Linked DNA regions of Homo sapiens: all the other regions are reported to be linked to region 4. The links are microRNA targets in miRTarBase. Many come from high-throughput screens and were not tested one by one. Region 4 holds a microRNA gene; each other region holds the end of a gene's coding sequence. Distances are from middle to middle.

The links. Region 4 holds the annotated microRNA hsa-miR-3133 (UAAAGAACUCUUAAAACCCAAU, at 2,419-2,440, shown strand). A microRNA usually pairs through its seed, bases 2 to 8, with sites in the 3' UTR of a target mRNA and lowers its output. Matches are read on the target gene's strand: a 7mer-m8 pairs with bases 2 to 8, a 7mer-A1 pairs with bases 2 to 7 and ends in A, and an 8mer does both.
Region 1: miRTarBase lists SF1 as a target of hsa-miR-3133. Seed matches in the 3' UTR shown: 7mer-A1 at 3,304-3,310.
Region 2: the mRNA of CCDC149 is a reported target of hsa-miR-3133. Seed matches in the 3' UTR shown: 7mer-m8 at 1,738-1,744.
Region 3: the mRNA of MED4 is a reported target of hsa-miR-3133. Seed matches in the 3' UTR shown: 7mer-A1 at 3,174-3,180.
Region 5: the mRNA of TMCC3 is a reported target of hsa-miR-3133. Seed matches in the 3' UTR shown: 7mer-m8 at 3,385-3,391.
Region 6: the mRNA of MAPRE3 is a reported target of hsa-miR-3133. Seed matches in the 3' UTR shown: 7mer-m8 at 600-606.
Region 7: miRTarBase lists HNRNPC as a target of hsa-miR-3133. Seed matches in the 3' UTR shown: 7mer-A1 at 3,789-3,795, 7mer-m8 at 3,496-3,502 and 7mer-m8 at 2,737-2,743.

The regions. Positions count from the first base shown.
Region 1 is chr11:64,761,998-64,766,068 of GRCh38, forward strand. It overlaps SF1 (splicing factor 1), which reads right to left. Exons shown (of 13, transcript NM_004630.4): 13 at 2,609-4,071. The coding sequence ends at 3,821. Among named protein-coding and RNA genes, the nearest start is that of PYGM, 4.1 kb to the left of the region's middle. RefSeq lists enhancers at 131-180, 211-530, 1,118-1,991, 1,221-1,270, 1,741-1,840 and 3 more.
Region 2 is chr4:24,804,921-24,808,997 of GRCh38, reverse strand. It overlaps CCDC149 (coiled-coil domain containing 149), which reads left to right. Exons shown (of 13, transcript NM_001395273.1): 13 at 179-4,077. The coding sequence ends at 609. Among named protein-coding and RNA genes, the nearest start is that of SOD3, 11 kb to the right of the region's middle. RefSeq lists an enhancer at 1-255.
Region 3 is chr13:48,073,912-48,077,987 of GRCh38, forward strand. It overlaps MED4 (mediator complex subunit 4), which reads right to left. Exons shown (of 7, transcript NM_014166.4): 7 at 1,813-3,400. The coding sequence ends at 3,228. MED4-AS1 (MED4 antisense RNA 1) reads left to right here and starts at 3,226. Exons shown (of 3, transcript NR_046511.1): 1 at 3,226-3,440; 2 at 3,531-3,642.
Region 4 is chr2:241,475,496-241,479,572 of GRCh38, forward strand. It overlaps MIR3133 (microRNA 3133), which reads left to right and starts at 2,410; the gene lies at 2,410-2,487. FARP2 (FERM, ARH/RhoGEF and pleckstrin domain protein 2) reads left to right here. Exons shown (of 27, transcript NM_014808.4): 19 at 362-492. It also overlaps the pseudogene KCTD5P1.
Region 5 is chr12:94,568,022-94,572,021 of GRCh38, forward strand. It overlaps TMCC3 (transmembrane and coiled-coil domain family 3), which reads right to left. Exons shown (of 4, transcript NM_020698.4): 4 at 1-3,716. The coding sequence ends at 3,414. MIR7844 (microRNA 7844) reads right to left here and starts at 3,331; the gene lies at 3,210-3,331.
Region 6 is chr2:27,026,136-27,030,207 of GRCh38, forward strand. MAPRE3 (microtubule associated protein RP/EB family member 3) reads left to right here. Exons shown (of 7, transcript NM_012326.4): 7 at 145-1,084. The coding sequence ends at 213. Among named protein-coding and RNA genes, the nearest start is that of TMEM214, 4.8 kb to the right of the region's middle.
Region 7 is chr14:21,207,393-21,211,469 of GRCh38, forward strand. It overlaps HNRNPC (heterogeneous nuclear ribonucleoprotein C), which reads right to left. Exons shown (of 9, transcript NM_004500.4): 8 at 4,014-4,077; 9 at 1,755-3,914. The coding sequence ends at 3,831. Among named protein-coding and RNA genes, the nearest start is that of LINC00641, 2.5 kb to the left of the region's middle.

The DNA.
Region 1 (4,071 bases), not on the chromosome of region 4:
ACATGGCGAAACCCCGTCTCTACTAAAAATACAAATATTAGCCAAGCATGGTGGCACATGCCTGTAATCCTAGCTACTCGGGAGGCTGAGGCAGGAGAATCACTTGAGCCCGGGAGGCAGAGGTTGCAGTGAGCCGAGATCACGCCACTGCACACCAGCCTGGGCGACACAGCGAGACTCTGTCTCAAAAACAAACAAAAAAACAATGCTGGCAGCTGTCTGGTCTCTTCCCCTTTCACAGTTTGCACCCCAGCCTCAGCTCCTGGGCCTCATCCCCATCCTCCACTAAGCACAGCTTGGACTCCAGCTTGGCCTGGCATCCAAGGTTCTTCACAGCCCGCACTTGTCCCTTGGAGGGTTGCTGTGAGTAGAGCTGAGACTTCTTGGCAGTCCACTGCCAGGCAGGCAGTAGCTTGTTAACCATGCCGTCACCTCACAGCCCAATCGTGGCAGCCTGCTTTGGCCACACACACCTTCTTTGCATTGACCCCTATTTCCTGCAAGACTTTATGTTCCTGCCACTGAGGACCCGATCCCCATAGACCATCCACATCTTACAGGCAGGGAAGGCCAAGTTCATTCCATCCTTTCCCAGCTACTCTCCCCTCTTGCACCCAGGGCGCTTGCTCTCAGGAACATTTTTACTGGGAAATTTTTAACTTTCTCCAACTACCTTTTCTGTGGCTTCTTTCCGTCTTTGTCATGCCATCACTCCCCACTGTTTCCAGGCTTTGTCCCGGGGTGACACTGCATGCCCCAGCCCAGCATGATCACACCTGGGCAGCACGATCTCATCTGTTTCCCTGCTTCCTCCGCCCCTCCTTGGTGTTGTGTATGCAGGTTTAATGAACCCTGAAGCACTTTTACAACCTGAACTCACTCGAGGTTATTTATGTCTAAGTTTCTAACTAGAAACCCGGCCTCCTTCCTTGGACCAATCCTGGGTTTCTCCAGAGCCCTTGGCTGAACCTCAGTAACAGAGCCCTGAGGCTGACCTTTCCCCACTGGCATTCCTCTTGCCAGGCCTTGCCAGGCCTTGAGGGACGGGGACAGTGCTGCTACAGCAGCAGAAATGAACGTGAGGAGAGGGGGTGGGGCAAGCACAGCCCTGTCACAATGTGATGGAGTAAATGGCTTGCTTTCCCACCCCAGGTGTCTTAAGACAGGTGGGCAGGCCTTTCTCTCTCTGATTCTGCCAGAGGCAAGTGCTTGCCACGGTTCAGAGGGCCAAGCCTTCCTGCTGTCTCTTCCATTTCAGGGCCTCTAGCACCTTGGAGACTGATGCCTTAGTCAGCCACTTCCTCTCCAAAACCTTAACAAAAGCTGACGGCAGGGAGCAGAAAGGGAGGGAGCACAGGAATGGAGCTGGCCTGGGGGAGAGAAGCGGAGGAGATAGCTAAGCTGTGGTTAAGTCATTTATTGATTTTATTTCTAAAACCCACATAGCGCCACTTTGCCGCTTCCAGAGCTTCAAAGAGCTAATTAACCACCCAATGAGCCCACCAGGGAAACCAAGCTTGTGGGAGAAGCAATGAGGTGAAGCCAAGGTCAAAGAGGGTAGCCAGGCCCCAGGCCCTGCCCCCATTCTGCCACTTAAGGACAAAGGCAAAAAAGATGTCCTCCTTTTGGTGAGCCGAAGTTTAGGGCTTGGCTGGGGAAACGCACTGAGCCTGCCTTGCTTCTGAGGGCTCCTCAAGCCTGGCAGACCCATAGCAAAGCACAGGCCTCCTGGACGGGGGACCAGACACCCCAGTAAACAGCAGTAGCCAGCCCTAGCTCACAGCTGGAAAGCAGCCCAGGCCAGTTGCTGGCCCCAGCAGCCAGATGCTGGGGGAGCCTACTGTCCCTCAGCCGCCCTGAAGGAAGGAGAGGCAGGTGGAACCAGGGCAGCTCTAAGGCACCTCTGCCCAGGAGAGGACCTCACTACCTGGTGGAGACTCCACATGGATTTTTCTGGAACCCTAACAGTAACTACCCACTCGCCGCCCAAGACATGGAAAAAAAGCAGAAGACCCTTTGAAAAGTGCTTGCAAAGCACAAGATGGGGCACTTTATCCTGTCCCCCCGACCCCCGCCAAAGCCTACAGCGCTGGCAGGCTGCAAGTCACCAGCAGAGAAGGAAAAAAGCCACTTGGCGGTTTTAATTTTAGCTGCTCTGTGCCTGACAGGCAGGATTAGTTGGCTTGACCTTTAGTGTTGATGCCTCCCCAGGCCCAGGGCCTTAGGTGGCAGCTTCCAGGCACAAATCACCACTGGAGCTCATCAAACGTGGACGTCTGAGCCCCAGGAAAAAGCCTTCAAAGGACAGAGACTAGAAAAATGAGCAGTGAACAAGGAGGGGCAAAATTGGTTCTCAGCGATGTTAACTAGTCACCAAAGGGGAGACTGTGGAGCCACCCACACACTGAGCTCCCACCACCAAAGCCACACACAGGAGGCAGGTGGTGGGCTTCCCTAATTAACCACCCACAGTCTCACCCCCCCGGACCTGGTGCTGAACGAAAGTTAAGGCACCTTTGGTGCTGCTGCTGCTGCTGGTGGTAGAGGAAGTTTATGTGAAAAGAAAAACCGGGCGGGGCAGGCATTAAAAAGAAAATAAAGAAGCAGACCCAGAAAACCACACTGCTCTTTTATTCAATGGAACATCCCCGCTTTAGCGCAGTGTTGAATCTAACACCGAAAAAAGCCCAGAGAAATTTCTGCAGATAAACCAGTGAAGAGAACGCGCAGTATACATTATTGTCAACAGAATCACTTCATGGAGAGGGAAGCGGGAGGAAAAAGGAAGGAGAATGAACAAGGGGCTCAAACCCCTACACACTGCAAAACATTCAGACATTTGGGATTAAAACAAAACATAAAAGGAAGCCTTCCAGGAAGGAGAGGACCAAATGGAATCTGAGGCAGCTCAGGTGATCAAGGAGCACAGGAAGAACTCCAGGCTGGCAGGCGAGCCCGAGGGAGCTCAGGCTGCCCACCCACTGCTGGCAGGATCGCCAGGACGGATGGGAATCCCGAAACCTGGAGATGAACCTACCCTCGGCAACTTTACAAGACTCCCTTGACAAGGGTGGCAGAGATTAAAAAACCCCACGCTTTAAACAAACATCTTTGGGGGTGGCTATGGCACCTTGAAAAACCCACAACCAGCTTGACATGAATGGCCAAAGCCCTTGCCCAAAACCATTTGCTCCCCTCTCCTTGGTAAGGGAAGGAGAACTGGAGAGAAGGGAAAGGAATCTAAATTGCAGCAGAAGACCGGGGAGAGCATCTCCTTGGACGGAGTCTGAAGAAAGGAAAAGATAAAGAAGTAACAAAGGAAAAAGAAAAAAATTAATAAAAATTTCACGATATGGAGCCAGCGTGTTCCGATTCCGTCCACAAAAATAACTCAGGCTGCTTTGCCGAACCATCCTGTCCACCAGGGGCGTTGCTGAGGCTGTCTGCCTGGAAGGGTCACCAATGGGCGCGGAAAGTCCTCACTCTCATGGCTCGGGCCATCGCCGCCGCGGGGAGGGATCCTGGCGGCCCGGTTTGGGGAGAGGCAAAGGGAGTTGGGTGAGGAGAGAAAGAAGACAAAGAAGACACTCGATGCTACGGGGCGCCAGGAGAGCCCAAGCTGGCGCCCCTACTACCACCTGCCCGTTCCCAAGCGAATCCTCAGTCGCTTGGCCCAGCCCAGTGCGTGCACACACACACATGCGTGCACACACAATCACATGCGTGCGTCCCAATGTCTGGCTCCATATGGTGAGGTTCGGCGTGTTTAAACGAGACCAATTCTCTCTATATATAATATATATTTTCTTAAAAAACAAGTCTAGTTCTGTGGTGGAGGCGGTGGGGGAGCTGGAGGCATCCCGAAGGGCGGCATGCCCGCCACCCCCATGCCCATCATGGTGACAAAGTTAGAAGGGTCCATGGGAGGCGGAGGAGGAGGGGGCGGGGCATACATCATGCCGGCGGAACCAGGCGGTGGAGGCGGCGGAGGGGGAGGGGCCCCAGGCGGCAGAGGCGGCTGGACCCCGGGGGGCAGGGGCACCATAGTGGGGTTGCCTTGCATCTGAGGGG
Region 2 (4,077 bases), not on the chromosome of region 4:
GTTTCACCTGGGTCCTGTGTTCCCCTTTGGCTCCATTGCCCTGCACAGGGAGCCAAAAAAGTCTTGCTCCTTTTTCAGAGGCCCTGTGCTGGTAGGCTGGGCAGGAGGTTGGCAGAAGAGGGGCGGTGAGGGCTGATTTGCTGCCAGAGGTTTAATGTTGTCCTCGTTCTGTTTTCAGGGGAGGCTCAGAAGCAAGAAGAAGATGAAAGTTGTGCCGCTGCTGAGGCGTTGACAGCGCCTGAGGATGCTGGGAGGCCCGCTGTCAACTCCCCAGCAAATCAGAGCCGCGGGAACCAATGCAAGCTCTTTCATCCTTCATTACCCCAGTTACCTTCTGAGGAAGAAGTAAACAGCCTTGGGAGGGAAATAATTAAACTGACAAAGGAACAGGCAGCTGCAGAACTGGAAGAGGTCAGAAGAGAGAGTCCCATAGAAGGTCAGAGGAGTGAGACGGGGCCAGCCCCGCCAGGCCTGGCCATCCAGGGGGAGCTCCCTAAATCTCACCTGGACTCCTTCGAGGCCAGCCGGCCAGCAGCCAAAGCTTCCACACCGGAAGACGGCAAAGGGATCCCAGAGGGCGGAGGCATGAGGAGCACCGTGAAAACCTGAAGGGGAGAGGGATCTGACACAATGACACATTGAAAGCCCCAGAGAGGGTCAAGAATGAAGCATCGGAATGGTGCGCTCACGTCGCCTTCTCCTGAAATACCTCCGAGTCTGCAAGTGAGAAAACGCACTGATCCTGTTGCAAACTGTGAATATTCTGATGATGCCAGTACAGTTTGATTTATTAAATGTAGGTCCTCAAGCTTCTCAGTGTCATCTCTTTTCTGCCAGAGAGTGCTACTGTGAACAGGGCCAGGCCCAGGAATCGTGTCCACCATATGGCTGGTTTTCAGCATCCGTCTTTCTGTCAGCTTTTGTTTTATCAGAGATAAGATGTTTTTGTATTAGCATTTAATGTTGTCAATCAAAATTATGGGAAGAGCTAGAAACTGATGGGGTTTTTAATCAGGTCCCCATCTTGGTCAAGGTTAGGCAGCTGGAGAGGAAGGTATAATTGAGCAAAACGTGTCCAGAGGACCCATGGCTGCACCCCATCAAGTCAGGGCCCAGGAGGACTGCCTGGCATGGGTGTGCTTGGCATTGTGCCCACAGCACTGCTGTCGTGGTACAGACTGGCAGTTGGAAGGGGCCTTAAGCCGGCTGAGAAGTTTGGGCTTCTGGGTTGAAATCCACAGCCCCGGTTGAGGCCTGTGTGCTGAGTGCCAGAGCTGGAGTTTTCTAGCTTGTAAATCTGGAGAATTAACTGATCTGAAGTGACTGGGAGGGGTGAGCATAAAAGCCGGGGAACAGGACTCCCAGTGGTGGTCTGGTTTTTTTTGTGAGATGAGATGAGAGCTACCACCTGGAAATGCTCATTCTCTGCATTCAGCCTGTCTCACATACAGGATTGTATGGCCATTTCAGGTTTGGGAAAGATCTACCTGCTGGGAGCCAGTCTAGTTTCCTGCACCACCTGGAACTTCCAAACCCTTCACTCCTTCAACAGAATGTTGAGGCTGCCTCATTTGTGCCACCAAGTACGGGAATCTTAAAGACAGAAACAGAGCTCATGACCTTTTATGGGAAAGAGAGAGGAAAACAAAACAACTTCACAACAGCATGGCAAGGGGGGATGTGGAACCAAGGACATGATACAGGGATGGGAAAGGAGGGCATGCTCAATTCTAGCTGGTTCTTTCCTTTCAGATAAAAATGAGCTTTTCTAGTTGGCATCCGGCACTGCAGAAAACTAAAAGTCATCCAGCCATAGCTTTTTCCTTCCCTGGAAAGCCTGAGACTAGATCCCAAAGCTCAGAATGCCTCTGAGAACCAGAATCACTCCTTTGAGAGGCGCTCCTTGCAGGAAAAAGAGAGGCTCCCAGAGTGGTAGCCTCTCAGTGAAAATGCATCCTAAAAATTCAATGTTTATACCAGGCTCATGACACTAAGATGTGACATCTGGACACGAGGGGTCAGCCACGTGGATACATCCCTCCCAGATTGCATCTCCAGGAATCACTCTGCTAGCAGAATGGGCGCCCCATCCCTTACTATGCTGCTCCTCCTCAAAGTGCAGCCCAGAAGGACCCAGGCCTTTGATGCACATTGGGTGGGTCTCCCACTACTTTAGTTGAAATGGGAGCATGCTGGAGTCGGCGTTCTGTTGCTTCTGGTGAGAAGGACATCCCATTGACCCCTGGCCACCAGGTCCAGTATTCCATCCTTCCTTCTGTCCCAGCCTATCGCCCTCCCCACCAGGCCCACCCCCACAACTTCTCCTCAAGGGAGGTTGCTCCCGCAGCTGGAGGGCTTGCACAGACCAGCAGTCACAGAAATCATTCTTCCTGCTGTACTGGGCCTTAACTGCCTGCAAATGTCCAGCACTACTGCATAGGATGCCAGAGCCACCGAAGGAAAACACAGCCAAGTTTAATAATAATAAAAGGAAAAATCTCAGCCTGCAGAACTCTGGTTTTGACCCACCATCGGCCAGATGCACATCTTCAGGGCCTGTTGAGCACCTTCTGAAAAGCAGGGCTCGTAATAGACTCCAGCACATTCCATCAGAGTCAGGAAAACTGCAGTGAGTCCCAGAGAATCTAGGGTGCAGGGCAGGGAGCAGGAGTCATAAGGAGTGATAACCTAAACTGTGTGTAGTCAGCGGGGAGGGTCTTATGTTATCAGGTGAAATGAGAGCCAGTAAGTTAGTTGATCCTGTCACAGATATAACCCTGATAACACCCCATAGATACGCGACACGTGTGTCCTGCCCCTGCTTTCCCCATCCAACATGGTTCTTCTGTTCCACAGACATTAAAGGGGCTTTCTGCAATTACTTACAGCTGTCTTTTGTCTTTTTTAGGATCAAAGTTTAAGGTTGTGGCATTCTGTCCCCTACTTCACTAGATAACCCTGCATCAGTCATGGTCCTCTCAGCTTCAAGCCACACTTAACAGAAACTTAAGCGGTAGGGAAATGAATTATGTTGTATAACAGGAACTTCGAAAGTAAGGCATTCCAGGGCTATACATTCAAGAAAGTTGTCAAGGTTCTAGGTTTCCATCTTCCTGCTCTTCCTGCTGTGTCAGCTGCTTTCTCATGATAACGAGGTGGCTGCAACAGCTCCAGATAACACCTGTTCAAAGGCAGAAGGAAGTTTCTTCCCACATACGTGTGTGTGTGTGTTTCAAGAGCGAGAAACCCAGTTCCTATCACATTTTATTGGTCAGAATGATCACCTGGGGCTTGTGGTCGCATGAGACCTTGTCACATGATGATGTCACATGGCAATGTCTTAACCATTTCTTAGCAAGGGAGATGGTATTACCATGATCTGTTTAGGTTCACCAAGATTCACCCTTAAGAACTGAAGAAGGGCCCTGTCGCTAGACATTCAGACTCTAAAAGGCTGAACACCAAAACAGAATCATATCTTGGGATGTGTAAGAGAGTTGGGAATAGACAACCAATGGTGCTGTCTCTGAACCCCATGTCTTTTTGTTGCTGCATAAAAAGCCAGAAAATCATGTTTCCGATGAGTTTGGAGTTAAGGGGAGGGGCTATGGTTGTTTGCTCAGAAAAAAGCCATCTCATCCCCCCTCCCTGGCATCTTTCTGATCTGTCCTGTTCTGTAGGTGGAATGTTCCCACCTTTGTTTGCCTGTTCAGACGTGTTTGTCCTTCCATTATTTTTCCGGCTGGATTGCCAGCAGAATGCAGAGCAGCCTGGAGAAATGAAACAGAGCTGACAGGTCTCTTAATGAAAGCTTGTTTGCACACTCTGCCTCTCCTGTGATCGCTCTGTGCCTGAGAGCCTCTAGGTGTGGATTTTTACATGAGCGTTTGTCTTTCTTTTGATTAAGGCCTGTAGAAGTGGATTGGTTTTTGTAAACCAGGCATTTCTCATCCCTCACTCTTGCTCTTCCTCCTTCCACACCTTCTCTGCCCACCTTCTTCTCCCCTCCCCGTTCCTTCTCTTGCTCCCACAGCTATTCCCAAAGCCTCTCTAGCTGGGAGGCTCCTGATGGCCTCA
Region 3 (4,076 bases), not on the chromosome of region 4:
TTCACATGTCACAAGTATGGCAGAAGTTTAGGAGGATAAGATTAGTGGAAGAGAGACCCTTAAACAGTTACAAGTCTTTCTAGCACCAAGATCATTTCAAAAAAGCTGACCGACATCCCCAGAGTTAAAAGTTATACTTATCAGTAGGAAAGAATAAACAGCCTACAGATTTCCTTAGAGGGGACATTGGAGAAACAAATACAAGATAGTAACTTCCTATGAACAAATTTAGAAATCTGCCTACAGAAGTGTGGCTTTGCAAATGTTTTTCTTCCTCTACCCTTTGTTTTTATCCCCAAGGTGTTTCCCTTTACCACTTAAAAATAACTGCTGATGCAGCTGAGGGATGGATTTGTCCACTCACAACCTCAGAATACATAATTCTTAGGCAGATCTCACTCTAGCTTCCCAAAGCGACAACTGCACAAAGTTATACCAAGATCAAAAACTGGTACTTCTGAGCCCAGCATGGTGGCCTGTAATCCCAGAACTCTGAGAGGCTAAGGCAAGAGGATTGCCTGAGGCCATGAGTTCATGAACAGCCTGAGCAACAAAGTAAGACCTCATCTCTGGAAAAACAAAGAAACAAACAAACAAAACAGGCACTTTTGGGCTAGATTTGTCCCACAGTTTATATAATCTAATTTTAAAAGCCTGGGCATACACTCTAGTTTTGGCCAAAATTTCTACCACTCCCTGTTAAGTAATATCTAGCCAACTCCTTACATTTGTGTGAGTGGCCTCGTCTCTGAAGATAAATTTGAGTTTATGACCTTTTATAGACATCATTTCCAGAGGCAGTTATTTTAAGGGCATCTACTGGGACACACACAAAAACCTTTAAAAAAATTTTTCAGGCTGGGCGCAGTGGCTCACACCTGTAATCCCAACACTTTGGGAGGCTGAGGAGGGTGGATCACGAGGTCAGGAGATCAAGACCATCCTGGCTAACATGGTGAAACCCCGTCTCTACTAAAAATACAAAAAAATTAGCCAGGCGTGGTGGTGGGCACCTGTAGTCCCAGCTACTCAGGAGGCTAAGGCAGGAGAATGGCGTGAACCCAGGAGGTGGAGCTTGCAGTGAGCCGAGATAGAGCCACTGCACTCCAGGCTGGGTGACAGAGCAAGACTCCGTCTCCAAAAAAAAAAAAATTCAGAAATATATAGACTTATGATATTGACTTAGTACTGATAGAATGTATATTTGTGTAATTTTCAGGGGAAAAGTTTGGATTATTTCTGATAGGCTGGATAATGACCCCCTTTCCCCAAAGATGTCTAAATCCCAATCTACAGAACCTATGAATGTTGTTTTGTTACATGGCAAGGAAGAATTAAGGTTGCAAACAGAATAAAGGTTGCTAATCATCTCACTTTAAATAAGAAGATTATTCTGGGTTATCCAGTGGGCTCAGAATGATCACAGGATCCTTTAAATATGGGACAGGTAGGCAGAAGAGCATCACAGTAATGCAGAATGAGAAACACTCACCAACCAGGGGCCTGGAGCAGGACCAAGGGCGGCCTCTAAAACCTGGAAGACACAGGGGACAGATTCTCCCCTATGGCCTCCAGGAAGGAATGCAGCCCTGCTCACACCTTGATTTTAGGTGAGACCCACTTCACATTTGTGATGTACAAAACTAAGATAAATTTGTGTTGTTTTGAGCCAAGTTTGTGGTAATTTGTTACGGCAGCAACTGAAAACTAATACAGTATTAAAGAATTTGAAAAACACAATCCTTTTGAATCTACCCTAAAGATTTGGTGATAAAAACAGGCAGTTACATTATGGCACATACCACAATAAAATTTTAGCCATTAAAGTAAATCTTTCAAGAATGTATACACATGGATCAATATTCCTAGTATACGGACAAGGCAAGGTTAAAATTAGATATTGTGTTAGTCCATTCCTAAAAATAACCCTGGAGGGAAAGACATTCAAACATTGTATGTCCTTAATTCTAGATGGTGAAAATATAAGATTAATCTCCTATTTTCCAATTTTTCTAGAGATCGAAAATAATCAAAAGGAAAAAATGATGGAAAAATGGAATTCTCAGTTCATTTGAAGAATACAGATTAGCAATTAAAAAATACAGCAGTATCTCAGGAAATAAACATTATTCTCATTTTACAAAAAAGTGTATGTGAACTTTAAAAAAATCTACACTACAATATGAATTGATATTATCTCTGGGTAGAATGCTAACAATTTTATTTTCTCCTTTACTGTATTCACTAAATGTTTCACATTAAATGTTGTATTACCTTTGAAATCAGAAGATACATTGTCTAAAACTGATACATCAAGAAATAGTTGTATAAGCATATTACCTAAACACAGAGGTTACCAACAGAAATTAAAAGTGGTTAAAAATGACTCCTGGGGAACTGTAAGAAGAGGAAGGTGAAGGGAAGAAATGGTTGCTTTCCATTCTAAATCTTCACACAATCTATTCTTAAAATCAGACAAGGCTGTGGTAAATTTTTTCAATTATTAAAAAAAATTATTTCTTCTAATAGGAATAGGCCTTTGAGAACCCTATTAATTGTAATAGGTTTCAATTCAGTTAGTCACTCAAGTATTATAAAATGCAACTGGATTTACAGAAATAATTTCCTACCTACACTGACAGTATATTTAAACTAAAAAAAAAGCATACAATGTACAAACAAATTTATTTACAAAAATTACAATTACAAACTGTACAAATTGAGACAATTTCCCATGCCTCCAACAGAAGCCAAGAGCCTTTACTGTCAAATGGCAGTTTTTGTTACTTTTAAATGACACACAAAAAGAAATATGATGCCTATTCAGTCATCCACTGCCAGTTTAAAAATGCTTTTCTAAATAATTCCAAGAAGCCTATTAGTGATATGTATATGGATAATTTCCCTCAACTCTATTTCTAGAATGGCTATGTACAAATCCAGCAAAACTGGAACAGAACAGGGTAAGAAAGCACATAGCAACTGCTTTTTCAACAGTAAATTTTGACTATTCCCCTAAATATCTACCTAGTGGCTTAAAACTAAAACTATGGTCTTTGGCTTTAAAAAGAAAGTCAAAAAATTTTGACTTTTAATGACTGCACAATTCTACCAAAGCCAGTGTTTACCTGGGTATTTTTTGTCACCTGTAGTTTACATTTCCCTGCTACTGTTAAAGAAACAGAATTCTACAGTATTCAATTCTGTATATTGTCTTTTAAGGTTTTTCAATCAGACTCACTACTACTGCTTGAGGAGTCCGTTGACATAATCTCTACATCATCTTCATTTTCTTTATTATGCCCAGGAGGTTCCAACAAAAAGTCACTACTATGATTTGGTGGTAACATATTCATCGACATGTCATTTGACTGCCATGGATACTGTGGAGCAAGGACATCTGGAGAAAAAAAGAAGCATAGATAAGAACAGCTCTATCTGTAATTAATCTAGTTCTTACTTTTCCCTTTATGCAACAATTTGAAGTATTTTTTTTAATTTTACTTTTTTCTCTTCTTTTTTTGACACAGGGTCTCATTCTGTCACCCAGGCTTGAGTGCAGTGGCACGAATACATCACTGAAGCCCTGACCTAGGCTCAAGCAATCCTCCTGCCTCAGCCTCCTGAGTAACTGGGTTACAGGTATGTGCCACCATGCTTGAGTACTTTTTAAAGTTTTTGTAGAGATGAGGTCTCACTATGTTAACCAGGCTGGTCTCCAACTCCTGGGCTCAAGCTATCCTGCTACCTCAGCCTCCCAAAGTGTTGGGATTACAGGCATAAGCTATTGTGCCAATTTTTTTAAGACTAGGAAAAAAATACACATTTAGCCAAATTAATAAAAATCAAATTTATCAAGGAAAAGTTGATATTTTAGCAACTGGGGACTTTTTTAAAAAAATCATACTACTCTGTAAGAAACTATTTAGTCAGTTGACATAATTTTTCTTTTGTAAGACATTTGTAATTACAAATTTTTCCTGTATCTATGTATCTATTATATGCATATATAATACATACTTATGTATACTAGGTTATGTAGATTATTCTACATATTATAAACAAGTAATAGGTAC
Region 4 (4,077 bases):
CTGTCAGATCAGCAGCAACATTAGATTCTCATGGGAGCACAAACCCTATTGTGAACTGCACATGTGGGGGATCTAGTTTGTATGCTCCTTGTGAGAATCTAACAAATGCCTGATGATCTGAGGTGGAACAGTTTCATCCCCAAACCATTCCTACCACCTCTGGTCTGTGGAAAAATTGTCTTCCATGAAACCCATCCCTGGTACCAAAAATGTTGGGGACCGCTGCTATAAGGAGTCGAGTAGGATGTACCTCTAATTAGAACTGCCTTTTAGAATGCTGGTTCCTGTCACAAGGTGGTGGGTGGAGGGTGCTGTGCACACCACTGCCTGTACACCTGTACTGAGGGGTCTCTCCACACAGACGCCCTGAAAGCCATCACAGAGGTGACCACCACACTACAGCACATTCTCATCCGGCTGGAGAACCTGCAGAAGCTAACGGAGCTGCAGCGGGACCTGGTGGGCATAGAGAACCTCATTGCTCCTGGCAGGGTGAGTGACCTTGCTCTGGGAATGTTTTTTGAGCTACTTTGGTTTTTCAATTGAGATATAATTTACATACCACAAAAGTCACCATTTTAAAATGTATAATTTTGGCCAGGCACAGTGGCTCATACCTGTAATCTGAATACTTTGGGAGGCTGAGGTGGGAGGATCGCTTGAGCCCAGGAGTTCAAGACCAGACTGAGCAACACAGGGAAACCCCATTTCTATGAATTAAAAAAAAAAAAAAAAAAAAAGAATTGCTGGGTGTGGTGGCGCACACCTGTGGTCCCAGCTACTCAGGAGACTGAGATGGGAGGATCGCTTGAGCCAAGGAGGTCGAGGCTGGAGTAAGCCCTGATCACAGCACTGCACTCCAGCCTGACAACAGAGCAAGACCCTGTCTCTGTTAAAAATGAGTAAATACAGCCAGGCACAGTGGCTCACGCCTGTAATCCCAGCACTTTGGGAGGCCAAGGCAGACAGATCACCTGAGGTTGGGAGTTCGAGACCAGCCAGACCAACATGGAGAAACCCTGTCTCTACTAAAAATACAAAAAATTAGCAGGGCATGGTGGCACATGCCTGTAATCCCAGCTACGCAGGAGGCTGAGGCAGGAGAATCGCTTGAACCCGGGAGGTGGAGGTTGCAGTGAACCAAGATCACGCCATTGCACTCTAGCCTGGGTAACATGAGCGAAACTCCGTCTCAAAATAAAATAAATAAAATAAAATAAAATAGGTACATATATACATACATACACACATACATACATACAAAAAATATATAATTGAGTGGGTTTTAGTATCTTCACAAGGTTATGTAGCCATCAATGTCGAATTCAGAACATTTTCATCACCCCAAAGTGAAACCCCCACAGCAATTAACAGTCACTTCCCATCACTATTTTGAAGGGAACCCTGTTCTCAGGAGACTCTGTTCTGAGGTAACCCTGTTCTGGGTGGGGATGCTGTTCTGTGGGGACCTCGTTCTGCTCCCTAACCCCTGGCAACCACTGATCTGCTTTCTGTCTCTAAGGAGTTACCTGTCTGGGCATTTCATAGAAATGGTATCACACATTAATGTGGCCTCTTGTGACTCTTCTTTCACTCAGAATAATCTTTTCAAGGTTCATTCATGTTCCTTTTTTTTTTTTTTTTTTTTTATTTGAGACAGAGTCTTGCTCTGTCACCAGGCTGGGGTGCAGTGCCGCGATCTTGGCTCACTGCAACCTCCGCCTCCCAGGTTCAAGTGATTCTCCTGCCTCAGCCTCCCAAGTAGCTGGGACTACAGGCACATACCACTATGCCCAGCTAATTTTTGTATTTTTAGCAGAGACAGGGTTTCACCATGTTGGCCAGGATGGTCTCAAGCTCTTGACCTTGTGATCCACCCACCTTGGCCTCCCAAAGTGCTGGGATTACACGCATGAGCCACCGTGCCCGGCCTCATGTTCCTTTTTGTGGCTGAATCATACTCCATCATGCATGTATCACACGTCTCTCCACTCATCTGATGGACACTGGGTTATTTCCACTTCTTGGCTGTTACGAATAGTGCTGCTGTGGACGTTCATGTACAAGTTTTGTGTGGACTTATGTTTTCAGTTTTGAGTATATACCATATACAGGTTCATATGGTAATTCCATGTTTAACATTTTGAGGAACTGCCAAACTGTTTTCCAAAGTGACTGAACCATTTTTCATTCCCACCAACTCGTATGAGACTTCCAGTTTCTCACATCATGTGTCACTTTTTGGTTCTAGCCATTTTAGTGAGTGTGTAATGCTGTCTTGTGTGGTTACAATTTGTATTTCCCTGATAGCTAATGATATTGAGCATCTTTTCATGTGCTTATTGGCCATTTGTAGGCCTTTTTTGGAGAAATGTCTATTCAAATCCTTTGCCCACCTTTTATTTTATTCAGAAATTGTAAAGAACTCTTAAAACCCAATAGTAAAAAGACAACCTGTTGAGTTTTAAGAGTTCTTTATATATTCTGAATGCTAGACCTTTATCAGACTATGATTTGCAAACATTTTCTCCCATTGTGTGGGTTGTCTTTTCACTGTCTTGATGTGGCCTTCATTTACAACATGAAAGCTTTTAATTTATCTATTTTTTTTCTTTAGTTGCTTGTGTCTTAGATGTTATATCTAAGAAACTATTGTCAGCCAAGTGTAGCGGTGCACACCTATAGACCCAGCTACTCGGGAGGCTAAGGTAGGAGCATTGCTTGAGCCCAGGAGTTCAACGTTGCAGTGAGCTATGATCCCACCACTGCACTTTAGCCTGGACAACAGAGTGAGACCCTGTCTCAGAAAAAAAGGAATTAATGCGAGCACTGCCACCTGCCTGGGGCAGCCTTAGGGCAGGGCTGGCGGGGGCGACCTGTGCTGCTGCAGTGCAAGACTCAGAGTGCCGTGGCCCAGCACCCGGTAGCTTGTCCAAATGGCTCTGGCTCAACATTGGTGGCACCTACTTTCTCACCACCCAGCAGATGCTGTGCCAGGACCTGAAATACTTCCTGTACTCCTTGTATCAGGCTAACCCCGACAAGGATGAAACTGTTGCCTATTTAATGGACAGAGACCCCACCTATTTTGGGCCTGTGTTGAACTACCTGAGACGTGGCAAGCTGGTGATTAACAAAGACCTTGTGGAGGAAGGAGTGTTGGAAAAAGCAGAATTTTACAGTATCACTTCATTAATAAAACTTGTAAAGGACAAAATTAGAGAACAAGAGAGCAAAACATCACAGGTGCCCATGAAGCATGTGTACCACGTGCTTCAGTGTCAGGAGGAGGAACTCACACAGGTGGTGTCCACCATGTCCGACAGCTGGAAGTTTGAACAACTGGTCAGCAATGGCTCTTCTTACAACTATGGGAATGAAGATCAGGCCAAGTTCCTCTATGTGGTGTCCAAGAAACTTCACAACACCCCATACAGTATGGCCAGTGAACCCAGAAAGAAGGCCAAGATTTTGCAAGAACAAGGTTCAAGGATGTGAGGGACACAGTATTGACAGCTGAAAAAATGATTTACTCTTTCCCAAGATGCAATGAACTACCATGTCCAGGAAGCTTGGCTGCGAGAAGGAACCTGCTTTTGATCATTTTTCTAGAGATCTGGGTGTGAATCCTTTTGTGCTTCTGAGGTGGGTGGTGAGAGACAGGTCCAGCTGTCCAAGGCCAGGTGTCCCCAAGGGGAGGAGCATTCTGGCCAGGTGGGTACTATCTCTTGAGGGGGGCCAGAGACTGAGGCAGATGCTCCCAGTCAGCCCACTCAATCCCCGAAGATCATGTAAAGGACAGAGTTCTTGGTACTACACATAGTCTGTAAAAGCAGCCTGCGCTTCACTGGCAGGAAGCGGCCACGGCCTCATCGGCATCCAGCACGCCGTGGCCTCGGGTCTGGCTGCCAGGCCTTAGGCTCAGTCAGGAGTCTGCTCTGCCTCCCAGGTGGGATCGCTGGTTGCTATCAGCCTCACAGAGCTCCTGACAAAGGTGGCTTCTGCATCATCACTACTTCTGAGTGCCGTTTCAAGGCCAGGCCTCTTTCCGACACAGGCTATGATCCTGCCTGACTC
Region 5 (4,000 bases), not on the chromosome of region 4:
AGTGACAGAGCTGGAAAGAGCGAAAACCACATGAATGCTAATTGACAGAGAAGGATAACAGCCTCACCGGCTGAAATGAAAGACGGAGTTTCGGAAGATTTCCTTCTGTGAATAGCTGACAAGGATCACGCAGGCAAAAATGCTACCGTTCCAAGCTACAAACTTGGGACTAATCCCATGTTCATTGTCCAAACCCAGCAACGGAGTACTTTTTTGCTGTTTCATTATGGATTTCCATTTTTTTTTTTTTTTTTTGGCAGTTGGGGGTGGGGTGTTCTGGTTTAATCATATTCAGAGTTTGAGCTTGAAATAACCAACTCAAGACCCACAGGAGACTATGTCACCAGATAAACCCAGTGCTAGAATCCAATGTCCAGCATCTTCAACCACTCAGGAGTGTTTGCTGAGAGACCAGGTGGTGCTTACCCACCCAACAAGCACTTTCCATCTTTGGGTTTGCCCAAGATGTTTACCATAAATGAAAGGGGTGGGGAAAGGATTATAGTTGACACAAACATAAATTAAATATCCAATTCCAGCATATGTTACAGCTACATCACTATTTTTAATTGTAATATTTCTAAAATGTCATTTAATCTCCTTACACATTGAAGAGAACAAACAGTGGGAGTGTTTATTCCTTAAGAGAGAATAAACTGCAGAGATTAAAAGTTTCCTTCGAGTGTATCATCTTATTAAAAAGTACAAAGTTTCATGAACTTTCAACAAGACTGCAAAATAAATATGCCAGGTAGGTTGAGCCTATCCAAGTGAAAACAAGGTTATTTGACATTTAGTGAGAGTCAATGAAAATATGAATTATTTCAAAGGAATTCATGATCCAGGTAGGAGGATTTAGATCCTACGGTATGTTAGAATAAAGCTAGTTTCTAGCAGATTCTGTTAACAGCTCCAGACTAGAGGGGACGGAGTGTGCTGCTTTCCATTCTCTTCTCTACTTCTGTCACTGGGGAGAAGATACACGGATCACAGGTCTGAGAAGTGTGCATTAAAGCACATTTGCTAGGCTGAGCACTGGAATGGTGTGGGCTGGTGTGAAAATGAAGCCTACGTCTTCTTGGACCCTCCCAGAGCCCTTCACCTCAAGGGTTAGACATCTCTCCTTCTCTAAACTAACAGCAGCACTCAATCCCTGGTGTGTCCGAAGTGGTGCTTGGAAAGATTCACAGATACCAAGAGGGGCCCACCCAGGCCCCAGCTTGATTTAGGAGTGTAAGTTACACTCAGCACTCAGCCCACGCTGAGTCTGATGCCCACAGGTAAAGGGTAATGCTGGCCATCGAAATACAAAAGCTAAAGGAAGCACAACATTCTCTCTGCCTCCCTGCCTTGCACCTGGCCTCCTTATCTGTCTCCCAGACTTGAAAGATCAGTGTATACACATCAACGCGGTAGACCAGGGGGAGTCTGACAATGAAAGGAGAGACAGCCATGAGATCAGGGTGGGACTGGTAAGGGAGCTCTTCTCTGAATCCAAAATACTTTATCACCAAAGATTTCATGAAATGACATTTATTGTTTAAAAAAGCGTGAGTCTGGAATTAGATAGTGGTGATGGTTGAACAAGTTTGTGAATTTACTAAAACCACTCAATTGTACGCTTAAAAAAAAAAGCAAGCTTGAGCTGCCTAAGTCCCGCTCACACACACTGGACTTGTACTAAATGCTCAACGATTCCATTCTCTCAGACTATGGAACATTCTGTCACATTTTTTTCCTTCAGGAGATTTCCCTAAGAAGAGCTGTTTGCAAAATATTGCACTTAATTTGAATCCAGGGGGACCTGATGTCTCCTGGAAGAAAACGTACACTCACATGCCTTCCTGCCTGCAGCAGATGGCGGGAGTGGTGGGACAAGGGGCTCAACAGCAGTTTCCATGAACATTGTTTCCATCTTCCTCTTTGTTATACACACAGAGACACAGATTTAAAGGAAAGTATCATCTGGGCTGAAGGCGGTGAATGGTATCCCCCAAACAGGGATGTGAACTTTTGAATGTTTTCAGCTCAGAGGCAGTATGGTCGTCCTAATACCTCAGGACTTATGTTCAGTGAGATGTTAAGAGACAGGTGGCAACCTTGGCTCAAACACTGGACTTAATTTATTTTATTCTTGCTAGTCTTTCACTTCTCAAAGACGATGCTCTCAATCTTCATCCAGGTGAACTGCTCCCACTAATCTAGCCACCATTCAGTCACACCCTACGTCCTCGTTTCCTCATGCTTTCAGCGTTCCGACACCTCAGTGCACTTGAACTTTAGAGGCTATGGTTCGGTTGTCCTTCAAGGAAAAAACTGCAACATGACCATCATTTGTTTTCATTTCCTGAGTAAGCTTTGCAGTCCCTCACAGACCTGTGAATAAGATGAATCACATAAAGTGAATCATATCCTCCAGGGGGGCTTATCACAATCAAGATTTGCCAAAAAACAGCCAGGCATGGTGGCTTGTGCCTGCAGTCCCGGCTGCTTGGGAGGCTGAGGTGGGAGGATCCCTTGAAGCAAGGAGTTTGCAACCAGCCTGAGCAATATTTAGCAGAGCCCTGTCTCAAAAAAGAAAAAAGATTTGCCAAAACACAAACCTTCAGAGTAGTGCTCACAGGATTCCAAATTAATGTTAAAGTCACAGTCTGATGAGGGATTTGAAAACATTCCTGCACACTCTGAAGGCTGGGCATTTGCTAGCCAGTTGAGACAAAATCAGGTGTTGGTTGCCTGGGTATGAGAAGGTGAAAGCCCCATTCATAAATCCCTATGCCTTCCCATTTAAAGTGTAACAAAACCCCTCAGGTAGACTTGTTGGATAACAGGTGTGTGATAAGATTTCCACGTTACAGGGTCATACACGACTGACTGCTGTGGACACTGAGTACATGACGGGACCTATGGTCCCCTGGAGAGAAGCAGGGTGGATCACACGGGGACCATAGGCCACAGTGTTTAACACTGCCCAAGCCTGTGATTCTTCATTCCCTGAATCATGCATATCCTTGCTTTTTATAGGACTCACAGAAAACAACCATTAGCAATTGTGAAGCTCAATTCTGACAGAGACTTAGGAGAGAGACCTCTTTCTTCAGGATCACCAATTATGCCAAGGTCTCAATATACAGAGGTTTACCACGCTGGGCTGGTCAGGTGGGCAGGAAATCGGTCTGATTAAGGCAGTGAGCAAGGTAGGAGAGCTCTGAAACAGATTCGTGTTAACGAAGTACAAGGACTGAGTTGGCAACTGCTACGGAGTTAAGAGAATTGTAGTTATTTACACCACACAGTCCTAGTTTTTCTTACACACGAGTCCGCACAATCATTCACTGTAAAATTTGGTAGTATGCACAGAGTTTTCTTTAAAATAAAAACTTGAAAGAACTTGAAGGCAGGAACCAGTGGCTTCATCTTGGTATTATCATCCTTTCTATGGCACACAGGATATGGTCCCAGTTTTTACAAAATATAGCAAGAAGAGTCACGGCAAAGAAGGTGCCAAGAATGTGGCAGCGACTCTTCATCATGGGTGAGACGAACTTCGCGATGGTGGACACACACACTAAGATGACAGTCATGAAGGCCAGGATCACGTTGATGCACCTCCCCAGGAGAACTTTAGCATTCACGGTGTCTGTCTGCAGAGCTTGCTGCTCTTGCTGGTGGAGCTCCAGCTTAGAAATGCGAGTCTGGCAGGATTCCAAGGCTTCCTGTGAGCAAGAGGGAGAGCAAGGGTCAAACGGTGTTGGGATGGTGAGCAACACGTGAGTGCTCGCTCAGCTGTACACAAAAGCCCCAGCTCAGAAAGCCCAATGCCCAGGCGGCTGCAAATCCCCAAACCGATGATGATGGTGATAGACAAAGATGTGGAACAAGAATCCCAGGCTCATTTTCTCCTGTTGTTCACGAGTAGAAGAGCATGTGGATACAACCACAAAATACCATAAATGAGGAAGTATGGCTAAGTTTTTTGACTTTACCTGTTTTTTTTGAG
Region 6 (4,072 bases), 210 Mb from region 4:
AGAGAGGTGAAGTCACTAGCCCAGGGTCACCCATTAGCAGGGCTCCTGGACTCCTGACCCCTTGCTCTTCAGCTACTTACAGAACCTGAGAAGCCCTGCCTGGCCTGCCTGGCCCACCACTTTCCTCTCTCTCCCACCCTCCAGGAAGGATTCGCACCCCCTGAGGACGATGAGATTGAAGAGCATCAACAAGAAGACCAGGACGAGTACTGAGGGCGGCCGCAGCCCTGGCTGACTGCACAGCTTCCCCGTGCCTCCCTCCCTGCTCCACTCCCACATTATAGTCCTTTCCTAACACGGTCGGCCGGGTGCTTTGTGTCAGTGCTGCAGCACTGGGGAGCCAGGCGAGGGGGGCTTGGGGGCATGGGGCCGGAAAGCAGGCAGAAGCCCGTCCTGGGTGGTGCTGGCCCAGTTGGTGGGACCCCTGTCCACACCCACCCTATTTATTTCCGTTGTCTCTCTGCTGTGTCGCCCAACACTTCCCAGGGTGCTGCTGCCACCCGCCCCAGCCAGCCACCTGCTCCTGACAGCCAGCAGCTGTGTATTTGACAAAGTCATTGGTATATTTTTACTTACTGGATTCTCCTTGCACTTTACCTGTTCTTTTCCAGAGCTGACAGCACGGGCTCCGGCGCAGTGTGCCTGGCTTGGCTTCCCTTCCCCATGGCTGGGGGCTGGGGTAGGACTCACCCATTCTAATTTATTTTGTCTTTTGGCTTCTCAGTAGCTAAGGGGAAGGCTGATGTCAGGAGAGGGAGAGGGGGCTGAGGAGGTAGTGCTGTAGGCCCAGGGGGTCAGGGAAAGGGAGGGGGGCATGTGAGGGATGGAAATGACCTCCTGGCACCAGGCTCACCCACCCAAGGCCCCCTGCCCCAGCACTGAATCCCAGCGCTGCCCTGAGGCCCCCAGCCACTCCCTCCAGCAGCCTGGTTCACCACACAAACTCTGCCTGGACCCCATTGTCTGTCTGCTTCCCACCTGCCCTCCCCACCCCCTGCCCCTCGGGCACCAGCCTGCATATGTGTTCACTTTTATTTAAATAAACTTGTGTGGTAAAAGTACATGCCATGTGTCCCTCAACTGAGCCACAGTCCAGGTCCAGTGCTTTCCACCTCCCATGCACCGCTCTCTCCGGAGGTGATAGCGGCAGCACAGCCTCACTGTCACCCTCCCACAGGCCTGGAAACCACCACCAGCTCTGGGCTCAGAGCCCAGCTCCAGCCTAGCCCCAATGCCCAACACTGGTGGTAGGGCTCTGAGGGCAGGTAGGGGCCCCAACCCCCCGTCACTGAGGAGGAACTAGGTCTGGGCCCGTGGCCATGACAAGGGACAGCCGGTGAAGCGGCTGTGGGGCACCGTGGTGGCCTGGCCAAGAGGTGCTTCGTTTCAGTCTCCTTTGGGTCAGGGGGACTGCATGTCATCCCCCACCTGTTGTCAAAGCTCATACAACTCATCATAGTGATTCAGCTGGGGACAAGGGCTCACGTGACAGAGAGAGCTGGGATGGCCACAAAGAGCAAGGAGTTCTGAGTGCTGAAGCCCGGGACAGCAACATCCAAGGGGTTCCTTCTGTAGAGCAGGCTCCAGTGGGAACAGGGAATCAGGAACCCTTCCACATCACCTGCACAGCCCCAGTCCTGGCATGTGCCTAACAAAAGGCCATACTAACCGATGTCCCAGAAGCCCAGCAGAGACCAAGAGTGCAGAAATGAATGTGAGAGCCTTGGGGTCATCTAGACCAGCCCCCGGTTTACTGATGAGGGGTCAGAGGCCCACGTGCATGACTCAATCACCGTGGCTGAAACCTGGACTAGAACTCACACTTCTTGACTTGAGGTTCAGGGCTCATCCCCAAAGACCACTGAGGTTCCCCCAGCTGCAGGACAGCGCTGGTTTCCTCACCACCCTGAGTATGGTCAACATGCAGATGGGGCCGTGTCTCTTCTGTGGCCCCACCCCATGGCCCCTTTTGAGACCACCACCATTTCTCTCATGACACCAGGTTCAAGCCTTAAATAAGCAATTCATATCTGTTTATTCCTCAATCACCTCCACCACCCCTTTTGACTCCCCCCCCCCATACATAGACACTTCTGCCTTATTCTATCTCTGTTCTCCTCCAGCAAGTTCCTTGCCTGCTTTTACTTATCGTGATGATTTTAATTCCCTTGCCTAATTTTTAAAGGCTTTTCCCCATGATTACAGGTAGATACCATGAAAGGATAGGCCAGGCCGAGACCTCACCCTGAAGGTAAAGTGGGTGTGGGAGGCAGAACAGTGCCTCCCCCAATGTCCACATCACAATCCCCAGAAGCTGTGAATATGTGGGTTACATGGCAAAAGGGAATTAAGCTGCCTGTGGGCCAGGTGCGGTGGCTCACGCCTGTAATCCCAGCACTTTTGGAGGCCAAAGCGGGAGGATCACTTGAGCCCAGGAGTTCAAGACTTCCCTGAGCAACATAGGGAAACACCATCTCTACAAAAAATAAAATTTGAAGGGCGTTGTGGCACGTGCCTGTAGTCCCAGCTACTCAGGAGGCTGAAGCAGAAGGATCACTTGAGCCCAGTTGTTGTTAAGGCTGCAGTGAGCCATGATTGCTCCACTGTACCCCAGCCTGGGCAACAGACTGAAACCCTGTCTCAAAAAAAAAAAAAAAAGAAAAAAAAGTTGCAGATGGAATTCAGGAAGTTAATCTGCTGACCTTAAAATAGGGAGAGTGTCCTGGTTTATCCAGGTGGGTCCAATGTCATCGCAAACGTTTATAAGAGTGGAAGCAGGAGGCAGAAAGGGTCAGAGTGGGCAGGGTGTGGTGGCTCATGTCTGTAATCCCACCATTTTGGGAGGCCAAGGCAGGAGGATCACTTGAGCGCAGGAGTTGGAGACTAGCCTGGACAACAGCGAGACCCCATCTTTACAAAAAATAGAAAAATTAGCCGAGCATGGTACTACATGCCTGTAGTCCCAGCTACTTGGGAGGCTGAGATGGAAGGATCATTTGAGCCCTGGAGGTCAAGGGTGCAGTGAGCCATAATCATGTCACTGCACTTCAGCCTGGGCAACAGAGCAAGATCCTGTCTCAGAAAAATAAAAGAAGAGGTCAAAGTGAAACAATGTGAGAGTGACTCACCCACTGTTGTTGGCTTTGAAGACAGAAGGGAGCCATGAACTCAGGAATGCAGGTGGCCTCTAGAAGCTGGGCAAGGCAAGGAAATGGATGCTCCCCCAAAGCCTCCAGAAAGGAACCCAGCCCTGCTGACACCTCGATTCTAGCCCAGGGAGACCTGAGTTAGACTCCTGCCCTCCAGAACTGGAAGATAACGCCCTTGTTTTAAGCCACTAAGTTTGTGGCAATTTGTTTTAGCAGCAATAGAAACGTAGTACAGTGGGTAAAACAGTGCTTCGGTGAGCTCACCCTTCTGCTTGCTCCCACACTAGACACCCATGTCCTCCTTGACCCAACATCTTTTGGGTCTTCAAACCCCACGGCGGGGCCTACCCAAGCCCACCTCCGTGGCTAGTGTCTAAGGCTGCTCTTCAAACACCCAGAACTTAAGGATGTAAAGCCACTCCCTTCTCCCCACCTCTTCCTGGTACCTCATACTAAGTGCTTCTTTCCTCTGGAACACTAAGATGGTGAACTGTAATTTTCTGTTTATACATTTGTCCCCCACACAGACTTCAAGTTCCTTACAAGCAAGTGAGCTATATCTTCCAGCTCCACCTAGCACAGGGCCTGACACAGAGAAGGTGCTTAGAAAAGGTTGCTGGATAAGTAAATGCATGATTTATATGTCCTAGATGCCAAGTTAGAACTGGTAACTTACTAGACTATTCCAATGAAAGATAGAGTCCCTCTCCCACCCTTCTGTGTGTCTCCACCATGGGGCAGCCCCCTCATTTGCCTCAATGGAAAGCCAGTTCTGTTTCTCTTCCAAAAACATGGTCTCTTCTGTGATCATACATGTGACACAGGAGGGGTCAAACAAAGAGAAGATATTGTTGTTGGTCTCCTGAGTACACCTAAACCAATGATCTGCAAAATGAATTGATTAATGATCAGTTCAAATATGG
Region 7 (4,077 bases), not on the chromosome of region 4:
TGTGAACTAGGGTCCAGAAACTGAAACTCCATTTGACATCAGTGTAGCTGAATTCCCCTAATAAATAAAAAGGTCAACTGTCAGTAGGAATAAGTATGTTTTCTGGTTTTCCCCTGAAATAAAATTGGTCAGTCAATGCTGACAGGCCAGGCATATGTTCCTGAGCTGATCACATTAAATATACACAATTTCTCTATCCTGCGACTACTTTCAAAAGCACATTGTTTCATCAAGGTTATCTCAAAACACTAGTACTTGCATATAGTGTATCATCTGCTCTACTTCTGTACTTTCTATATTATACACTGGGTTTTGCTTCCCCTAACACTTGAATAAAACATACTGCCAAGTTATAGTAGATTCGTATGTTCACACTTCATGGTTATCTTATGGTTTAAATGATGGTTACGTCTATTGTACTATTACATTCTTCCCAATCCTAATTTGACACCTGTTCATTTCCTTCCAATTTACCACCTTTTTGTTCCCATTTACATTATTTTCCTTTTCTATTACACCCGGTTCCCTCTGAAAAAGAGGATTTAAACCACGTAAGTAATAGGTACTAATCACACAATCTTTGCATGTTGGGGTAATATTAACATCAGAAGTGAAATACAAGAGGAGCCCTCCTTTTGAGAATCCCAAATTTAGCATCCATTCCCACCTGACAGCTTCCAGTTAGCTCATCCCACTGAGACAGCAGCAATTTATTAATTACCCTAGAAGAAGTTTCCCAATTATACGTTATGCAGCACCAGAAAAAAATGTTACTAAGGATTTTTTATCTACCTCCTCTCCTGCTTTCTAACCCTGAAATGAAAACTGCATTCTTGAATGATTGCAGGACATTTTCTTAGATTTCATGGCATATTGAGAAACTTGTGTTCTGAATTTTATCCCAAATTAAAATGTTTTTACTTTTAAATCTTACTTCCACTACTGCAGTGTAATCAGACTATCAATCTGAAATCCCTCAATTATTAAATCAGAAATCACTCAATTATTACCGTCAGATCTAACCCCTTTACCTGCACTGCCATGCCTACTATTCTGAATTTCTATTGAGCCAACTCAATTCTTACTTTGCAGGGCCCAGGGTTAAGTAATGTCACACTGACTATAAGCATATCATCTGATAAATGGCCTTTAAAAACACTAGCCCCTTTCCCAAAAAGCCTGTACTTATCTGCATTAGATCAGATTTTTAAAAGCCTTTTACCATGTGGTATTTCAATCCTGGTCTCTTTACTTTGCTACAGTTTTGGCCTAGGAACCTAAATGTCAAAGTACTCAATGAGTACACCTGTGATTATAGAAAACCTAGAGTACTGTTGTCTTAAACACGAGGAAATTTAAGCCACAGTAGCGTAGCCTAAAACCAAGAGCGTGAAATGACTTCCCCATCAACACAAACTAGACATGTCAGTATTCCAACAACCCTACCATATGTGTGTATAGATTTTCAATCTGTGATCATGCTCTACGGCTATTTGCAAAAGTAACTGCAGCTAATTAAAAGTAATGGCAAAAGCCACAATTACTTTTGCACCAACCTAATATTAAAAAGCGCTCTCCACAGCTTCATTCAATACCTGCTTTCCTAGAATAAAATGTATAGTTGGCCCCCCATGTTCATGGGTTCTGCACATGCAGATTCAGCCAACTACAGATCGAAAATACTAGCAAAGAAAAAAAACTAAAAAAAGTTAACAAAAATATAAATAAAAAAAGTTACAACTATTTACATACCATTTACATTTTATCAGGTATTTTAATGTAGAGATGATTTAAAATATACAGGAGAATATGCATAGGTTACATATAAATACTATGCCATTTTATGTAAGGGACTTGAACATCTGCAGATTGTGGTGTTCACAGCTAAACAGACTGCTCTGTGCAGGGAGAGGCCCTACAGTGAAGGGAAAAGTAGACACTTGATTGTGGACTAATTTGTTCAGTATTTCCCAAAAACTTACAGCTAACAATAATATTAAACAGGTTTTATTAGCATCTTATACATCTGACACTCTCTCCTAAGCATCCAGTTTATTTTCTAGTCACGGGTTACTTACTAAAAGTCTGTGTAACATGAGCTCACATCAGATTAGAAAACATCAAGTGGGTAGTATTTTTGACTGAATTAACATACAAAAGAAATTGCCTATATCATGTATATGGGCTCCAAGGGTAGTTCATACTTCAGCCTCTTCATTCTTTTCTGCTTTTGTCACCTGTTACAGAAAATGATCTATAAAATCCTCATAAATAAGACATGAGTTTTGCCTGTAATGAGTAGGATGAAAAAAGGCCAGTGCCGCATGCTATGAAACAATAGCAACTTTACAGGGGAATCCAAGGTTTGTGTGCACAAAAATTATAAGCGGCATTTTCTGCTATGCTGGAAAAACTGAAGTATAAAACACAAATGAACTAAGCCTTTCAAGGATGAGGTATCACCAACACTGGTAGCTGTTTAATATATTCATCTTACAACTGGATGCTAAAAATGCAATCACTGTAATTAATAAAGTTGAGGAAAACACAAAGATTAGCTAACAGGGGTAAAAGATCATTTAGAGTAAAATAAATGTGTAACATTCTCTATGTTCTCAATCACCTGGGAAGGCAGTCTATGGAATATCAGGAAGTAAGAGTTTTCTTGTTTTCAGGAACATGGAGGTATATACACTTCAGAATTCAGAAGGTAACTGGGGCTATAAATAGTAATTAAAAGAACAAAATAGAAGCAGGGGGGTTCCATTATGCAGCTGTCGCCATTTTCCTGAAATCTTGATGTTTTTGAGCCTCTCCTATTTAAGGACAAAACCATTTAGCACAAAACACAAACCTCAGAAAGGGTGCCAGCTGGACCACAAAGCACTGATGAAAAGGCAGAGAGGATATACTTCCCAAACTTTCATTAGGATGTAAAAGCCATTTTGAAAAAGTCTCCACTCTATGTCAAGTTGACTCCTCAATGCAACATGCATCTCAATGAAATATAATTTGAGTAGTGTTGTGTTGGTATGCATCATGATTATGACTCCAAGAAAAATATATCTAGTGCATTCTAGAGGTTTTGTGGAGGACGCTGTAAAACAAAGTTTGAAGTAAACAATAATAAAATACAAAAATAAAAAACCAGGGTTTTTTTTTTCTCCAAATTCCTGGTTTAATAAGGACTTGTTTATTTTGAGGAAAAAAGGTCCCAAACATCAGGCTGTTCACAAAAATAACCCACAGTATCAACTTTAGAAAACAAATCTTAAGACTATAACACTAATTATTTTTCTAGAGGATGCATTTGACATGCCAACTCTCATTCACAAAAATACATTGTTACATTTGTGTTGAACTGCCCCACACAGCACACTAATGTGAGGGTGTAACACACATACTTCTAACTCAAAGCTGCTTTCAAGAGCTACTCAACTAAATGAGATTGCCTTTGCAGTTAGGGAAGCAACTACTGAACTTATGTATGAATGAAAAGAACTGTACTCCCTGCATAACAAGAGATTATTTTGGAGACAGTTGATAAAAACCATACATCCTTTTTATTGTTAAGTCATAAAGAGGTATCAAAATTAAAAGCAAAAATTACAGGGTAAGACTTAACAAAACTACTAGGAGCGTCAAAGGAAGTGAAAATGGGACTAGGCGCGGGGCAATATGAATTAATGAACATGGGAAGGACAAGGATGGGGAGAACAGTGAGCATGTGCTGAAGATACTAGGGGAGAGGATCTGGTGAAAAATTTGATCTTAGACAAGCGCCTAGGTAAAGAAATAATGGGATAAGATTTCTAAACCCCACTATGTGCTTAAGAGTCATCCTCGCCATTGGCGCTGTCTCTGTCATCCTCTCCTTCCTCAGCCTCTTTTTCATCATCCTTGATCAACTCCAGCTGTGAGAAACAGACACAAACAGGATGGAGTTAGAGGCACTCCATGTGTCCCTGAGCCCCCCTCCACCACCTTTTTCTTTCCTTTCCCGTGGTTTTCACCTGGTCATCCCCCCGATCTTCATTATCATCATCATCCAGTAGGTCCCCCTCCTCAGCAGAGTCA